Linked DNA regions of Homo sapiens. The protein of the gene in region 1 interacts with the protein of each later gene in a pairwise test. Each region holds a gene or a part of one and is shown in the gene's direction. Other genes may lie near its edges. The genes, in order: CCNQ and GPR37.

Evidence for each region.
Region 2: the proteins of CCNQ (region 1) and GPR37 interact in a two-hybrid assay, tested with the Homo sapiens proteins (one large-scale study listed by BioGRID and IntAct).

Annotation. Positions count from the first base shown.
Region 1 is NC_000023.11:153,592,457-153,596,276, reverse strand, and holds part of CCNQ (cyclin-Q), read left to right. Parts: intron 1-89; coding exon 90-273; intron 274-1,597; coding exon 1,598-1,730; intron 1,731-3,543; coding exon 3,544-3,771; intron 3,772-3,820. UniProt on the Homo sapiens protein: Activating cyclin for the cyclin-associated kinase CDK10.
Region 2 is NC_000007.14:124,745,898-124,748,921, reverse strand, and holds part of GPR37 (prosaposin receptor GPR37 precursor), read left to right. Parts: intron 1-1,578; coding exon 1,579-2,397; 3' UTR 2,398-3,024.

The DNA of each region.
Region 1 (3,820 bases):
CTGCTAGGGCCCATTCCAATGGCTCCCCTCACTGGAGCAGTGAGCCAGCGCTGGATTGAAGTCCTCTCTTGCCTGCTTTCTCTCCGCAGGTGTCAAGCTAGGGATGCGGTCCATTCCCATTGCCACTGCTTGCACCATTTACCATAAGTTCTTTTGCGAGACCAACCTGGACGCCTATGACCCTTACCTGATTGCCATGTCTTCAATTTACTTGGCCGGCAAAGTGGAAGAGCAGCACCTGCGGACTCGTGACATCATCAATGTGTCCAACAGGTAATGGCATTTGGCTGGGCTCCTGATCTCCACCCGGTGGGGGGGACGGGCAGGGAAGGCTCCTATGGGGCCCTGCCCACCAGGTGCCAGCAATGGAGCTTGGAAGGAAGTACCTGGATGGCCTTGAACCAGGCAGGGCCAGAAACAGTAGCAGCAAACGTGAGAAGGAGCCTGATGTCAGAGGCCAGTGGGGTCTGTGAGAGAAACGCTGGGCCAGATTATGGGGAGCCTCGAAAGCTGGATGGAGGGCAGAGGCGGGGCTTCAGCAGAGGGAGCTTGGAGAGGCATGTCAAAGAAGATTCTGTGGAAGTCTTAGACAGGGATGGCTGCAGGCAGAAGAGCTTGCCTGCAGCGGGAGGGTGCAGACCCAGCCAGGTGGTAGGTCCCAGTTGCTTAGGAGCCTCGCCCTGCTGTGGGTGTGGCGTGGGCATGGCACAGCCGGCCCAAGCAGGTGTGTTCCTGCTGGGGCAGAATGCAGGGTCTTCGCCAAGGCGAGGGAAAGACGGTCTGGGAAATACAAAACTGAGAAATGTTCACTTTTTGGAGTATATCATTCCCATGAGAGGCTTAAACATGTTCCTTGGATGGCTGGACGTGGTGGCTCACGCCTGTGATCCCAGCACTTTGGGAGGCCGAGGCGGGTGGATCGCTTGAGCCCAGGAGTTCAAGACCAGCCTGGTCAACATGGTGAAACCTCGTCTCTACCAAAAATACAAAAATTAGCCGGGCGTGGTGGCGCATGCCTGTGGTTCCAGCTGCTCGGGTAGCTGAGGCGGGAGGATCGCTTGAGCCCAGGAGGTCAAGGCTGCAGTGAGCTGTGGCTGCACCACTGTACTCCAGCCTGAAAGGCAGAGCAAGACCCTGTCTCAAAAAGTAAAAAGTAAAAATAAGTTAAAAAAATACGTTCCTTGGGCCCAGAGTGAGAGCCCCGGGCATTGCCACCTCAGGTGATGAAGACTCCCTAATGCCGGGCTGAGTATAACAGGAAGCACAACCGACTTGGCATGCTCAAGCTTCCGGTTCCTCTGGAGCCATCGCCAACAGCCAGTCTTTGCACTTGACATTTTGCTGAATGATAGCGGACAGCCCATCTGGCTAAAACTAGGAGCTGGCTTCTTTCCTCTGTTGGTTACTGTTTTCATTCTCTACACTAGATGTGGAGATGAAGAATTTTTGTATAAAAACCCAAATAAAATGACCCTCCATGAATCTGCAGATGGACGATGTAGTTTGCATCTGGACATTGTGTGACTTAAGCAATTTGAGCCATCCAGTGCTCAGGAGACTGCCCTGGCTGCTGAAGCATTGCCATTTCTCTGCGCAGGTACTTTAACCCAAGCGGTGAGCCCCTGGAATTGGACTCCCGCTTCTGGGAACTCCGGGACAGCATCGTGCAGTGTGAGCTTCTCATGCTGAGAGTTCTGCGCTTCCAGGTCTCCTTCCAGCATCCACACAAGGTACATACTGGGGAACTGGTGCCTGTTTGGAGAGGCTCAAGCCATGGTCTCTGTTCTTTATCCCAAAAGTGCATCCCATCTCATACTCGAGAGCACAGCACAGAAGGAGAGCAGGGCTGCGGCTGGGAACTGGGTCTCCTGGCTCTGTGTTTGTGGCTGGGTTGGCCGCCCGGCCTCTCCCGTCCCACCCCTGTGGGTTTTCTCAGCCAATTCTCATTTCAGCTTCTGCCTTTCTGCCTGCTCACCTGTGGGCGGGGTCCGTGCTGCCCGCTGAAGCTGTGGCAGCTCCTGTGGTCCATATAGATGGTGTGCACGCTGGGCCTCGGGGAAGCAGGCTGGTTTTGTGACCGGCCAGAGTCCCCGTCCCCAGGGGATGCTGTGATGCCTCGGAGCACGCCTCCAGCTCAGCTGTGCTTAGGAAGCCATGGGGAAAGCCAAATCGCTTGAGTCAAGCAGCATGCTTTAACTTCTAGGAATGTGTGAGTCTCAACAGAAGAACCATTTCAAACAGCAGTAAAAGGGAAAAGTGGAACGCTTAGGCGACTGGCACACGATGCTCTGGGCACCGCAGCTCCATGCACGGGCAGCTCAGAAGGCTGGCCGGAGACAGAGATGGAGGAGTTGTGGTTTGGGGCTCTGGGCTAGGAGTTTCATTCTTTTTCATCGGAACTCTTCCTGAGATCATTGTAGATTCCCATGCAGTTGTGACATGTACCCTTAGCCCAGTCTCCCCCAGGGGTAACACAGCCAGGATGCCAAAACCAACACAGTCCACTGGCATCCTCACTTCCACTTGTATTCCTGTGTGTATATTTTTCTGTTCCATTTTATCACGACTCCGTTCACGGACCTACCACCACAGCCAAGGTGAGAGACGGTTCCACCCGCATGGGCCCTTCGTGTTGCCTTTATAATCTTGCCTCCAGCCTTCCACACTCCCACCTCAGTACCTGGAAAGCCCTGGTCTGGGATTTCTGCGCAGTAGTGTCTTAGTGGGCAGAATGCTTGCTGAGCATCCTGGGGGAAGGTGGGAGATGCCCTGGTGGCTGCAGGGTGGAGTTGTCAAGGCGACAGGGCTTAGGAAAGAGCAGCACTCAGACCTCAAGGGGTGTGTGATCTGTGCCCAGATGGGGAACTGATAGCTTGGTGTGGCTGGGAGCCTGCCAGCCCCTTCCCCTCCTTCCAGTCAGGGCTGGGGTGGAAAGTAACCTATGTATCCCTCCTGCATGGTGTGCTGGGGTCACACGCATGTGTGTTCCAGACTGTCCAGAGAGCTCGCAGCATCTGTCTTATTGTGTGAGGTTCTGGCAAAATGTCAGTGTTCTGAGAGCAGGAGCTGGCAGCTGGGCTGGGAGGTCATTTGGATGTTGTGGCCGAGGACAGCATGTGCCCTTGGCAGCAGGCCAGATGCATGGGGAGCAGCACCTTCTGTTCTGCCCATGAAGAGGGTGCTTTCCGGAGCACCAGGCCCCGAGGAATTTCATGGTGGCCAGAGCGGGCCCTGTGGTGGAGAGGGACTGTGGTGGGGGTGGCCCTCGTAGGTTTCCCTAGAGCTGGGTCTGGAGGGTGAGAGTGGGCAGGTGCATACGGTGAGCTGGTTTCAGGCAGAGGGCTCAGCAAGTGCGAAGGCCCTAGATGGGGTTTGCTGGAAGGCAGGGTGGGATCGGCAGGAGATGGGGCCAGCAGAAGGCCTTGGGGCTTCTTCCTGAGGGACATGGAAGCTGCTGGAGGGTTGGAGCAGGTGCTGATATGATTATGTCAGCATGAGGAGAGCAGCTGGTGGGCCTAAAGGCTGACACACGTGTCTTTGCAGTACCTGCTCCACTACCTGGTTTCCCTCCAGAACTGGCTGAACCGCCACAGCTGGCAGCGGACCCCTGTTGCCGTCACCGCCTGGGCCCTGCTGCGGGACAGCTACCATGGGGCGCTGTGCCTCCGCTTCCAGGCCCAGCACATCGCCGTGGCGGTGCTCTACCTGGCCCTGCAGGTCTACGGAGTTGAGGTGCCCGCCGAGGTCGAGGCTGAGAAGCCGTGGTGGCAGGTGAGGTGGCTGCTTGGCACACTGGACGTGCCCCCTTTCCCTCTGGAAG
Region 2 (3,024 bases), on another chromosome or scaffold:
TATTTTATAAGTAAATGAAATGATAGCATGCTTACATTAGGAACATGTGTTTATATTCCTGGAGAGCCTCTATGTGAAAAAAAAATAGGTACATATTTTTGGTTCTTAACCTTTAAATGTTGATTTTTTTAGATGTCTGGACCATATGCTTATAAGAGCAGTGCCTTTTTGAATACAGTTTTTCATGTGGTTATTGTCAAAGAGTTTTATGCTCCAAAATTTTCCTGTGTTTGGGATATCTAGACATTCTTTTTGGCTATTTTCTGCATATTTTCTTGTATTTTTACATGTTCTATTTTAGTATCTCCTATTTCTTTAAATTTGATGTACATACCTATTTTATGATAAATATACTTCTTATGTCTGATTCTGTATCTTTGGCATATAAATTCATAGTGGCTCATTGTCTCTTGCATATTGTGACTTTTGATTTTGTGAACCCATGTCCCTTGAATTTTAACTATAGGATTTTTTGAGGCCTGGTTTTAAAGTGCATTCTTCCAGAGAGGATTTATGTTTGATTTTAACCAGGTGCCTGGGATTATTTTAAATTGTATTTTGGGTTTTCTGAGCCACGTAGATCCTGGAAATTCTGATCCTAACACCATGTAAGTTCAGGCTCCCAGTTAGAATTTGCCATTTTTTTCCCTCCTTTTCCCCCAGTTCATCCAGACCCAAACCCTGTCATCCAGGCAGATTTCTTCATTATCTCTCTCTCTTTTTTCCCTTTACACCTCTAAAGATGTCAGCATTTGAGGAGTTCCAAATTCACAGGGAGTCTTTGACCCAATCCCCACCCACATTGGCCCCAGCTCTGTTTCCTGTCTCTGTGCACCTGGGCACCTTGCCCCATTTTTCTAGCTAAAACTAACTTGAAACCCTCACCAGGATTGGCAGGTGCCCCTAGGGCAAACACGCAGCATGAAGAGGGAGGGGTCTCTGGCCTGTTTGAAATTTGTTTCCTTTTTGATTTTGGCCTCTGGAGAATTTCCCTTTCTTGTTTTCCGTAAGTGTATGCCTTTGAAAATAATACTGTAATACTTTATTTTGCATTTAGGAAAAATTGGAGGAGCCCTCCAATCATTTAGTCCATTGGAGACAATAAGCTCTTGAGTGTTTGCTGTGTGTAAGGCACACTACTGACCCTCACACTGGAAAACATGAGCATCCTGGTCAGCAATGAAAATGGGAATTTCTGCACTACCCTGACTCCTTATCTAGATCTCCTAGTGGCAGACATTTTCGTGGTGAATAAAATTTTTAGTGTATCTGGGTTCTGATCTATAATAAAAAGGGATTGGACTAGCTGATCTTTATGGATCCTTCCAGTCCTAAATGTTCTGCACTCCATGACCCTCAAACCACTACAGTGTGTTTTCTTTTTTTATGCTTACAATGATTCAGCTGACGTCCTGAGCCCAGTTACCCATGCCTCATTCTGGAAAACTGTTCTCTCTCTCTCTCTCATTTTTATTTATCCATATTTTTTTTTACAGTTTTGCCAATCTGCATTTATTTCCTAGTGCTTTGATCTTTCGGGGGACACCGGGAATAAATGTCTTCTATGTTCCCCCACAGGTCGCTTCTCTGGGAGTCACCACTTTCACCTTATGTGCTCTGTGCATAGACCGCTTCCGTGCTGCCACCAACGTACAGATGTACTACGAAATGATCGAAAACTGTTCCTCAACAACTGCCAAACTTGCTGTTATATGGGTGGGAGCTCTATTGTTAGCACTTCCAGAAGTTGTTCTCCGCCAGCTGAGCAAGGAGGATTTGGGGTTTAGTGGCCGAGCTCCGGCAGAAAGGTGCATTATTAAGATCTCTCCTGATTTACCAGACACCATCTATGTTCTAGCCCTCACCTACGACAGTGCGAGACTGTGGTGGTATTTTGGCTGTTACTTTTGTTTGCCCACGCTTTTCACCATCACCTGCTCTCTAGTGACTGCGAGGAAAATCCGCAAAGCAGAGAAAGCCTGTACCCGAGGGAATAAACGGCAGATTCAACTAGAGAGTCAGATGAACTGTACAGTAGTGGCACTGACCATTTTATATGGATTTTGCATTATTCCTGAAAATATCTGCAACATTGTTACTGCCTACATGGCTACAGGGGTTTCACAGCAGACAATGGACCTCCTTAATATCATCAGCCAGTTCCTTTTGTTCTTTAAGTCCTGTGTCACCCCAGTCCTCCTTTTCTGTCTCTGCAAACCCTTCAGTCGGGCCTTCATGGAGTGCTGCTGCTGTTGCTGTGAGGAATGCATTCAGAAGTCTTCAACGGTGACCAGTGATGACAATGACAACGAGTACACCACGGAACTCGAACTCTCGCCTTTCAGTACCATACGCCGTGAAATGTCCACTTTTGCTTCTGTCGGAACTCATTGCTGAAGGACAGTACTTGGTTGGGTCAGATTTATTTGTTTGATTTTCATATCCCGTGAAAGTTTTTAATTCATATTTTTCCTTATAGGGAAAAATGCAAAAAAGAAACAATAAAGAAAGAAATATTAACTACTGTAGAACTGATTTTACAAATTAATATTTGTGCTTTGAAAAAAAGTTTCTATTTAGTTATTTAAGAAGAATGAGAAGGCCAATAGTTTTAGATTATTTTATCTGGTATGGTGCTAATATTTTATTTGAAAAAAGTTACTGCAACTTAACTTAAAATTGCTAACGTTTTTTCTTCTTTTAAAAATACAATTATTGTATATTGATTATAGCAATGTGATTTTGTAGGTTATTTTATATTTGAGTTGTGATTGAAAGTATGTTGTATATGGTATTGTGAGATGATTTGTACTTGGAAGCATTCACAAAGTAGCACCAAATAAATTACACTTTATTCTTTAATGTCATTGTCAATCTACTTTTAACCAATATTCAATAAATCTTCTAATTGCCTTAAAGATACAATTACTGGTTCTATGCACAATTTAAAACCGGCCTTACTGTTTTATAACGTATTTTCTTTTAAGGCAGGTAATCATTATGTTATAAAGAAGTTTTTCTAAT